Regions from separate parts of the Homo sapiens genome. Here region 2 is linked to region 1. The links come from fine-mapping of genetic effects on gene expression. A gene starts in region 1. The other region holds a variant in brackets. All regions are shown on one strand. Distances are between the middles of the regions. Region 1 holds the start of ESRRB (estrogen related receptor beta). Region 2 overlaps LOC105370575 (a long non-coding RNA gene).

Region 1 (5,374 bases):
TGCCTCCCACTCTGGGTGATTATATATGTACATAAAATATTGATTAGAATGGGTAATGGAGTCACCTACAGGATTGGCTACAGGAAAATGAAAATGAAGGAGAGCAAGGTAGGAAGGTACGTATGTTTCTCTCTGTGTGTGTTCATTTCTCACCTGGGAAAGTGAGAATGATTCTACAGCATTAACAAATGCTCTCTATGTGTTAGAAGCAAAAGGGAGGACCAGAGAGTTCCTCCTCCCTCAACTCTAGTCCCTGTGCCCTTGGGTTTTCTCAAGTCTGGGAATGTCAGCCAATCCACAGGGGTCAAAACAGTGAGCAGAGCATACACGAACCCACTTACTGTATGTTCCCTGGGAAATGCCGGCACTATAATGAATGGCTTTGTCCTACTATCCTTCTACCAAACCAAAGAATCCAGTCCCCTGCTCTGTTACTTTACTACCCATGGCTCTAAAGCTGTGTCACAAAGCCATGGGGTAGAGGTCAGAAAGATGTCTCCCCAGACACCAGCCCCAGACCTCCACAAGCTCGTCCTTGAAATGATGCCCCTCTGCGCCACAGCACATGCAGACCCTCCCTAGGCGGCACATATATGTATAAGAGGCCAGCTCATCAATGCCTGGGCTGCTGCCCAGTGGGTCCTGGGCTTTGAGAAATGACATCTGACAGGGGTGCTCAATTCCTCGGTGGAGACAGCAGGTATATTTTTGGCTTTTCCTGTGCCCCATGGAGGGACAAGCTAATTCTTTGCAAAAAAAAACCGGAAAGGGTTGGGGATCTAAACCTCTGTCAGGCTTAGTTTATAAATGATTTCTATCTCAAACCTTTCCCAGACCCCCAGGACCTCAGCTCCCTGACTTCCTTCTGCTGCTTCCCTGACATTGCCTTTTTGCCCATATTTCTCCTCAAACTCCAGTCAGGGCTGCCGTCAACTCGATGAATTACCCAGCTGTTAAAGCCTCCATCTCACTCCTTGCTTTCCTGGTAAGCATAATCAAAGAATGTACTTCCTTCATACGAATTTTCATATTTATTGACTATGACTTGAGCCAGGGACAAATACATAAGTATTTCGTGCTCAACTAAAGAAGTCACCTCTGGAGAGAGGGAGCCTTAATAATTTAAATATCCAATATTTGTCATACTTGATCATTTTATGTAAGGAAATGCTCCACAAGCACCAAATACTGTCCACAGCCTCACTAACCTCAGGTGCTCCCACCCCATCCCCACCCCAGCTAGAATCTAACCTTTAAAAGGAATGAAAGCCACTTTTCAAGCTGATGGAAATCGGAATCCATTATTATTAAGGATTCCTCTCCCAGACCAGCGCCTTCTGCCGACATTCTGGTGGCATCTAAAAGGCCCTCTGCCCCAGGGTGGAGTGGGGAAAATCCCCAAACTAGAAGCAGGAACAGTCTGGTCAACAACACAAGCCATGCTGTGGACAGCTGCCCTCTCTCTCAAGCGGGGTGCACCGTGGTGGAGGTGCTCCATGCAGCCAGGAGAGGGGTTAGGTACTTCCTGGGACCCCACATGATCCAGAGTATTTATTTTAGAGATGTAGTCGTGGTTCTTGGGGGGAGGGGGAGAGCGAGTGGTACACAAATGAAAGCACGGTGGAACTGGAGAAACGCTGACTTGGAGAATTTAGTTTGCGTCAGAAAAAAAAGAGGAAGACGAGCACAAAGTTAAGCAGGAAAGCTGTCCGTAAGAACCTAGAGTTTTATGTATTATTATTATTAAGCCTTCCGAGGGACCACTTTGCACGCGCACACAACCTGCCTCCGGGACACCCGCCGGGGGCGCCGTGGGGTGCGCAGCGCCCAAGGGGAGACCCGGGCAGGTACCCGAGCAGGTGGAGCGGCGACCGTGGAGGGTGTCGGGAGGGAAACCGTAGGTGGATAGAGTGGGATCCCCGAGAGCCCGGACATGACACGCGGGTTGACCACCCGCTGCTTAGGCGATCAGTTCACTTTCCCACTCTGCGCTCTTGGCGCGCTGCCCCGGGGCTGGAGACCCGCGGTTTCTGAGAGTCGCTTCTCGCGGCGCCGGCTGCCGCCCGCGCCCACGCCGCTCGGATAACCCCAGGTTCTGGCACCGCGAGCGCAAAGCCGCCTCGGAGCAGGGAAATGGTGCCCTTCTGTTCCGCTGGTCACAGCCTCCCCCAAAGCCGAGAACGAACTTTGCCTACGACGCAGCGCTGGGCCCGCATCCCCCGGGCGCCCTGGATCCGCCGCGCCACGTGCGCACCCTCGGGGCGCCCCACGGAGACCGCGAGGCGAGAGCGGCACTGGCCGCCTGCAGTTTCCAAACCGCCGCGGCACGTTCGATTTTCTCTCTCTTGCCGGGATCATTTTTGGTCCCCAGGATGGAAATAATAAAACAAAGCGCCCGCGGGAAAGGCTTTCTCTGACGGGACAGGACATCCTTGCAACCACATCCCTGCACCTGTTCTGGGCTTCTGCCTCCCTTCTTGCTCCATTCCACAAAAACTCAAATATTTTCTCACCCCGGAGCAAGATCAGAGAGGAGAGAGAAAGGGAGAAAGTGCATGAGAAAGCGCCACTCTTGCCTGAAAGTGTGGATTTGTAAAAGGGGGTGCGGGAAAAAGTTAGAGGAGGGTTTATGCCCTAGAAAGAAACCCAGAAGTGTGCGGCTTTTCCCCTCCTTCGTCCCCCAAGTGCCCCCCCGAAGTCCCTTCCACTTTTACACAAGAATGTGCAGAAAAGGAACTGCGATCCCCAGGACAGAGACTGCCAGACGGGCAGAAGGACAGACAGACCGAGAAGCAGGGCACCTACTGGTTGTGGTAGCCGAGGGGGTCCGGGATGCAGAGTTCGGACACGTCCATCAGTCCCGTTTTAGCATTCCCAGTTGGTAGAGAAAGACGGCGGGGAAATCACGCGGAAGAGCGAGTGAAGGGCACGGGCAAGGTGCGAGCCCGGGCAGGGCACAGTGAGCGCGAGAACGCAGAGTGGGAGGAGGCGGCCGCGGCGGGGGAGAGGGAGGCAGAGAGCCGTGCGCGCACAGCCCAGCTCTCCACTCATCCGCACGCTCCGGAGAGAGCGGGCAGAGGGGATGCGAAGCCGTGGAGGAGGCTGGGGCACAAGAGACTTGGAGCCCACTAACCCTACTGTAGCTTTAAGGCTGGGAGACTGATGTATAGTTTGGCTCCTATTGGCTATCTCTCAGGGGCTGGACTTAAAGTGACAGAATCAAGCTGGGGTGGGGGGAGGGGGTGAGACAGAGAGACTTCATGGAATGAGACGCTCAGCGCGCGAGGTCCCCACCTCCTGAGCAGTAGGAGTACTGGGTGTTAGAGCCCTAAGGCCTGCCTTCTCGCAGTTAAAGGGGGGTGGGGGGGAATGTCCAACCGCCAGGTGGGTCTGGGGTGGGGGGAGATTTATTGCTTACATACCCCCCGGGCCACCCCTATCCCATCTTTTAACTGGCAGGTCTAGCAAACTCACCTCTCAGCCTTTCTGGAATGGATCTGTTTTCCAAATTAAAAATGAGTCACATTTCTCCACCCACGCACCAAAGAGAAGAGGCAGCCTCAAACCCTGCGCTGTGTGCGCAAAAGTGCAAAGGGTCAGGCCAGCAGGTGAGGCACAGCAAGAAGGCAGGAGAGAAACAGATTCCCTTCCCAGTTCTCATCACCTGGGCCAGTCAGTTCTGCACCACTCTCATATGGCTAGATGCAGGGTGCGCATCTATAAAACGTTCTCTCAATGTATGAAGTGATGCTCTAGTCATTGGCAGCTCTCTGAAATGTACCCAGGACACAGACATGAGCAAATAAATTCCTGTCTGCTTAGGAAAATACAATCGTGGTGAAAATGATCAACTTACCCGCCACATCCACTCCAAGGCACAAGTACACACTTTGAAATACACACCTGAATCCCCAGCTACAAACGCACCTGCATCCCCGTCCGCTGCTCCCTCAGTGAACCCGAATATTATGGGATGCCACTGTACCAAAATGAGCTGTAAGTCATGCCCCAGCCCTGCTTCTGGGTTTTTCATCTTTTGAGATGCACCAGCCACAGGGATAATAATCAATTTGATGATTCAAATGAGTGTGGGGAGGGGGGTAGGTATAGAATTATTTAAAAGGGGGGAAAAGCCCTCAGGAGACACCACCACCTTATTCTCCTATATTCTGCAGAAGACAATGAGCAGTAGGGGGGAAGACATAATTTTATCATCAAAATAATGTCTAAATGGAGTGTAACTGCAGGCAATGTTCAAGCACTTCAGGAATAAAGGCAGGGAGGGTTGTGAGAAACCCCAGGAGGGGCCAGCCGCCTGGGCAGGGGCTGGGAGAGTGGGCAGAAGGATCGCAGATGATTTTTGACTTGGATAAATGTGCTCGTGCAGGTTGGGAAACAGAGCTGAGATTTTTCATATGTGCTGAAGTGGAGGAACAAGTGGGATTCTCTGGGCGCAAGGCTCAGGAAGGCATCTCACAGAGAGATGGATGAAGATGTCTCCTCTGTCAGTAGCCCCCCAGCAGCCCCCGATTTTTAAAAATCACATAGGTACTTCATCAGAGACAGAAAGAGGGGTGCAGGGATGCTTCCCTTGAGCCTGGCTTCTATATGACCATCATCTCTCACCAGGACCTCAGTGACTGGTTTTTCGGCATCCTTTCTGCCCTGCTGAAATCCATTCTCCAGGCACACAGCAGCCAGGGAGCGATTTGTAAAATGCACATCCAATGTCCCGTTGTTGCAATTAGGAAAAAGGCCCCAGTCCTTGGCCTCCAAGGAAGGCATCCTATGACAGCTTCCTGCAGGTCCCTCTGTTCCTCTCCACAGCCCCTGCTGCTTTCCCTCTGGGCCCCAGTCTTTACATCTGCCACCTAGAAGGCCCCACCTTCCATATAGTGCCAGAATCTTCTGTGGTTCCTTTGCTTTGGGTAGTTTATCACAGTTTGCAATTGTCTGTGTACTGGCATGAGTGATAATTCCCTCCTCCACCCTTCCCTCACTAGACTGTAAGCTCCATGGGAGTAGGGACCATGTCTCTTTTTGTTCACCAGAGAATCTCTAGCATCTAAAGTTGCCTGATACATAACAGTTGCTTGATGAAGATTTTGCTGAATGAATGGTTAACCTGTAGGAGTTTGGAGTGGGGTGCCACAGCCTGCTGAGTGACAGGCCGCTGCCCAGGAAGAAGGTGAGGCAGTGATGGGTTGTCTGGGGCCCCTTGACTCCTTACTCTGTGTGGGTGCACCGTTTTTAACTGGAAACAAGACACACTTGGTAGAAATAAGGTCCTCTTCATGGTCTGAAAAGAAAGACCACATCACAGCCCAGAGCAATGGATTCAAAGCCACTGGGAGCAAATGAGGAGAAAGTGGGG
Region 2 (5,374 bases), 100 kb after region 1:
ACCTTTCTACCCAGATGGTGCTTTCTATGATTTGAACATAACATTTATCTTCTTTGTTGCTCCATATGGGTCCTACCCTTATAACAAATGCACTACGTTGGCCTTAATGTTGATTTCCCTCATTATTCAAGGATGGTCCCTGGACTCCACTAAATTCTAAGGGTTCCATAGCCTTCCTCTGAGAGAGTTGGCCAATTCTTGCAAAACTAAAGAAAGTTATTTATTAAAAAGAAGGAATAATGTCCTAATGACAAATTTATGATGTCCCCATTTCCTCAGAGCCATAGCAGAATTCCACTGTTTACAGAGCACATGAATAAATCCAGATTGGCTCCATTTGTTTCCAATGTTAGTGAGGTAGCACGAAGATTATGATCCTGTTGGAAGCAAAGTCCTTCCAGCCACTGAGGAAGGGCCATGTTATATACCACGTGGGGCTACCTTGACTTGGAAGCATTTCTTGAGAACACTACTGGGGATTACTGTTATCTATTCTGGGCCCAAGACTCCCCTGATGACACCACATTTCTTATGAAAGAAGAGCTCTCTCTCCACCTACCAGCCACCTAAAGAATAAAGCTCCTCTAGACCCAAAGAACATACTCATGTTTCTCTTGGACAGGGCTAAGTTAATCCCAAAGGAGAAGTGACATTTTCCAAATGGTATTTACTAATCTCTATTGACCAAGGCCTGTAATCTCAGCACTTTGGGAGGCCAAGGCGGGTGGATCACTTGGATCACTGGAGGTTAGGAGTTTGAGACCAGCCTGGCCAACATGGTGAAACCTCATCTCTACTTAAATAAATAAATTAGCCAGGTGTGGTGGCGGGCACCTATAATCCCAGCTACTTGGGAGGCTGAGGCAGAAGAACCGCTTGAATCCGGGAGGCAGAGGTTGCAGTGAGCCGAGATCGCACCACTGTACTCCAGCCTGGGCGACAGAGCGAGACTCCACCTCAAAAAAAAAAAAAAAAAAAAAAAAAAAACAAATAACAACAACAAAAATTCTCTTGACCAAGACACTACTTTCTTTAATCTCATCCTAAATCTGTCTGAAAAAGCCATGCAAGCTCACTTGTCTCTTTCAAATATGACTTGGGAACCTGAGTGGTTCAATCCCAAAGGCCTCCCCATCCACCATATAGCAACATGGCCAAGAGCACAGGCACTGGAGTCCAACTGCCTAGGTCTAAATCCTGGCTGGGCTATTACTTGTTGCACTGGTTATCTATTGCTGCATAAGAAATTATCCCAAACCCAGCAGCTTAAGACAAGACTCCTTGTTGGAGTGTGCACAATCTGTATATTGAGGGTAGCAATAGTACCTACTTTACAAGGATGTATGTGGATTAAGTGAGATCATGCAAGTAGGGTACTTTGTGCAGTTTCCACTACATAGGAGGGACTCAATATACAGAGATGCTACAGATGAGATCAACCTAAACCCTGGGCCCCTTTAGGAGCCACAGTTTCTGTGGCTCCGGGAATCTGGGACTAGCTGAGCTGGGTCCTCTGGTTTAGCATCTCTCACAAGGCTACAGCCAATGTATGGCCCAGGGTTGCAGTCATCTCAGACTTCCAAACTCACTCACATGGTTGGTGGCAGGATTCAGTTCCTCATGGGCTGCTGATGGGAGGCTGTCCTCAGTTCCTTGAGGCCTCTCCAGAGGACAACTGACATGGTAGGTCCCTTCACCAGAGCAAACAATCTAAAGGAGCTAGGGAGAGAGAGTATGAGCAAGACAAATGTCACGGGCTTTTGCCCTAATCTCAGAAGTGACATGCCGCACTTTGATCTATTCTATCCATTAGAAGCAAGTCACTAGGCACAGCCCACACACAGGGAGCGGGAACTGCATGTGGATGTGAATACCAGAGGCAAGAACCTTAAGGGCAGCTTAGAGGCTGCTGACCACACCAGTCATGTGACTTTGGCAAGTTATCTCACCTCCCAGTGCCTCAGTTTCCCCATCTGTAAAATGGGAATGTTAATAATTAATAGCAATTAGCCTCCAGGGATAGTGTGTGGGTTAAATACATGAATTCCAGTAAAGAACTTGGAAACATGCCAGGGAAGAGTGCATGTTCAATACATCTTTGCAATTACAAGTATTTACAGGAGGGGAGAAATAACAAAGGTGATTTGAGATCCTGGCATGCACCCACTAAACTAAGTCCCAGCCTGGTTTGCTACTGCAGAAAATATTCCAGTACCACAAAGAGAGAGGGGGAAGTGGGGCTGGAAGCAGGAGGAGATGCAGGCAGACAGGTCATCAGGATGTGTGATGCGAAAGGTGGGGAAAGGAACCTGGCAGGCCAGGGCTGTTCCAGGAGCCCAGGTCTTTGTCTCCTAAAGAGGCCCAGGGTTTAGGTTGATCTCATCTGTAGCATCTACATATATTGAGTCCCTCCTATGTAGTGGAAACTGCACAAAGTACCCTACTTGCATGATCTCATTTAATCTACACACATCCTTGTAAAGTAGGTACTATTGCTACCCTCAATATACAGATAGTGCACACTCCAACAAGGAGGATTATAAATTGTAATTTACTGACAAAAAAAATGGAAGCTCAGAGAGGTTAAGAAACTTGCCTGGGGTCACACAGCTTTGGAGTAGCAGAACAGGGAGTCAA[T/C]TGAAGTCTGTCTGACTCAGGGCCCAACCTTGAATCCACCAGGCTAACAGGCAGGGACCAGGCAGAGAACCGAAAACAGAGCATGCACTCCTAGTGTCTCCATTCATTCTTACTCTGACCCCCACTCTCCAGCCTCCCCAATGTGAGAAACAGGCTCTCGGGCTTCTCCAGAGCTGCACATGCTGTTTCTCAGCCTCGCCTCCCCATCCTTACAACCCAAATGTGAGCCTTGATGGGGTCCAGCCTCTAGCCTGCCTGACTCACCCTCTCCAGCTCTTTGCATCATTATGTCTGCGATAGACTACATGTTTATCCCCCCAGAATTCTTGTGTTGGAACCCTAAGCCCCAGAAGGATGATATTTGGAGATGGTGTCTTCATGAGGGTAGAGCCTTCCTGATGGGATTAGTGCCCTTAGAAGAAGAGATACAAGAGCACACTCTCTCTGTGTGTGCATGTGTGTGGGTGTGTGTCCCTTCTCTCTCTCTTCCTCTCTGTCTCACTCCCTCTCTCTCTGTCTCCCTCTCTGTCTGTCTCTTTCTCTTACTCTCTCTGTCTCTTTCCCTCCCTTATCTCTCTCTCCCTCTCTCTCTGCCTTTCTGTTTCTCTCTCTGTCCACTCCCTCTCTCTATCTCTCTCTCCCTCTCTCTCTCTTTCTCTCTGTCTCACTCCCTATCTCTTTCTCTGTCTCTCTCTCTCTTCCTCTCTCTGTCCCTCTCTCTCTCTCCCCTCCCCCCTCTCTCTGCCTCTTTCTGTGTGTCTCTCTGTCTCTCTGTATGTCTCTCTATATGTCTCTCTGTGTCTCTGTCTCTCTGTGTCTCTCTGTCTCTATTTCTCTCTGTCTGTCTCTCTCCCTCTCTCTTTCTCTCTCTCTGTTTCACTCCCTCTCTCTCCCTCTCTATGTGTCTCTGACTCTCTCTCTTTCTCTCTGTCTCACTCCCTCTCTCTCTGTGTATGTGTCTCTAACTCTCTCTCTTCCTCTCTCTTCCTCTCTCTCTCTGTCTCTCTCTTTCTGTCCCTCTCTCTACCCCTCTCTCCCTCTGCCTCTCTCTCTGTATGTCTCTGTATGTCTCTCTGTCTCTCTCTGTGTGTCTGTCTGTCTGTCTCTCTCTCTCTTTCTCTCTCCCAGGTGAGGACATGAGAGAGCAGCCATGTGCAAGCCAGGAGGAGGAGGCCCTCCCCAGAATCCAACGAAGTTAGCACTCTGATCTCCGACTCCCAGCCTCCAGCACTGTAGAGAAATGTATTTAAGCCCCCTAGTCTATAGTATTTGTTATGGCAGCCTGAGCCAACTAAGACAGTCATAACAGAAATAGAGCAACCTTAACACCATCATTGCAATCCCATCCTGCTCCTTTAGATTTCTTACAGTTGTCACCGTCTGACACCAAGTGCTTTCCAAAGTCACCTTTCTTCTCCACCTTTGTATTAAACCCTTTTCTTCAGATCATATTCATCTATCTTGAGCTCAGGAGCTGGCCTCGCTGACCCCTAATTCTTATGACACCACGAAGATCCTCCTTCCCACAAACCACTACTTCTAGATCCATATCATGGAGTCCCAGGCCACCCTAAAGAGATGCCCACTGTCCTGAGTGACCAGTGGCCCCCTCCAGGAGAAAAAGATTTTTCTCTGCCCATCACCAGGATGGAAGAGAAAGCCAGAGGCCCAGAGGAGAGACAAGAGAAAGATGGAGACCGAGGTGTAGACTCGAGGGGAGAGAGCGTGCTCTAGGGGGGCTATAAATTCCCTTCTAATTCCAAATAATTCCGATTACACGGATGAGTAGTTTTCAATCAGGAAGATAATCTCAGAGATAGATGGCAGGATAATTGTTCGTAGCGCCGACGTAAATATTGTGTCGTTTCTATTAATCTCCGCGAATCGGCTGTCAGAGGTGTCACTCATTCATCACAACAAATTAAAAATAGAATTTTAAGAGAGAAAGTCACGCCTGGGGGTGGGGTGGGAGAGGCTGGGCTCGCTTCAGGAACTGTGAATAAGAGGGGGAGGTGTCGCCTGCAAGCTGTTGCCAGAAATAAATCTGGCTTCCCAATTTAATATATTTATTTATGAAAGCAAATGGTAACGAGGGCTGTAGATCTCTATTAACTTCCCTGTAAGAGTGTGCACACATGTGAGCATGTGCGTGCACATGCATTGATGCAGAATGCCATACTAAGCCAAAGCATGGGCTGCCACTCTGCTAACATTGCCCTGGGGTGAAGCATCCTCAGCCCCATCTGGACCATGGAGCATGGACCTCCCAGGGGCAGGTCACCTGTATTCTGCACACCCCAGCCTTTCCCAGCCAGTGAGGGGTGATGGTGGGCAGGTCTAGGCATTGAGACCCCCCTTCATATTAGAGATCTGAGATCATTTTAAAGATCAGAGATGGGCTCACTTCAGCAGCACATATACTAAAGATCAGAGAGAAGCAGTAACTGGACTCACACTGGTGTTTCTGAAACTGCTGGCGATTTTCTGTAATGCCGTGGCCTTGCAGGGTTATACAGGCACCGAGGAACATAAATCCAGAGTAAAGATGCTTTAGAGCGACATCTGAGTGACAAGAGTAGGAGCTCATTTCTTTGTCTCTCTCTTATTTCAATTCCTTGAGGGCTGAGGTTCCTCCATGAGAAGGCACCCTTTCCCAGGATCCTCCCCCACCCAGTCCCCCCTCCATGCCTACCCACCCATGGTGGCAGATGCAATAGACAACACGGGTTTTGCCACT

What was found. PIP is the estimated chance that this variant, and not a neighbour inherited with it, causes the effect. A credible set is the group of variants that fine-mapping cannot tell apart.
Region 2: its variant is the best candidate, but not a certain one, in a credible set for the expression of ESRRB in nasal epithelium (TOPMed, PIP 0.89).

Annotation. Positions count from the first base shown.
Region 1 is chr14:76,373,883-76,379,256 of GRCh38, reverse strand. It overlaps ESRRB (estrogen related receptor beta), which reads right to left and starts at 3,120. Exons shown (of 7, transcript NM_001379180.1): 1 at 2,806-3,120. The coding sequence starts at 2,855.
Region 2 is chr14:76,270,795-76,276,168 of GRCh38, reverse strand. All of the region lies in intron 2 of LOC105370575 (a long non-coding RNA gene), which reads left to right. Among named protein-coding and RNA genes, the nearest start is that of ESRRB, 100 kb to the left of the region's middle. The variant T/C (reference allele first, on the strand shown) is at 2,638.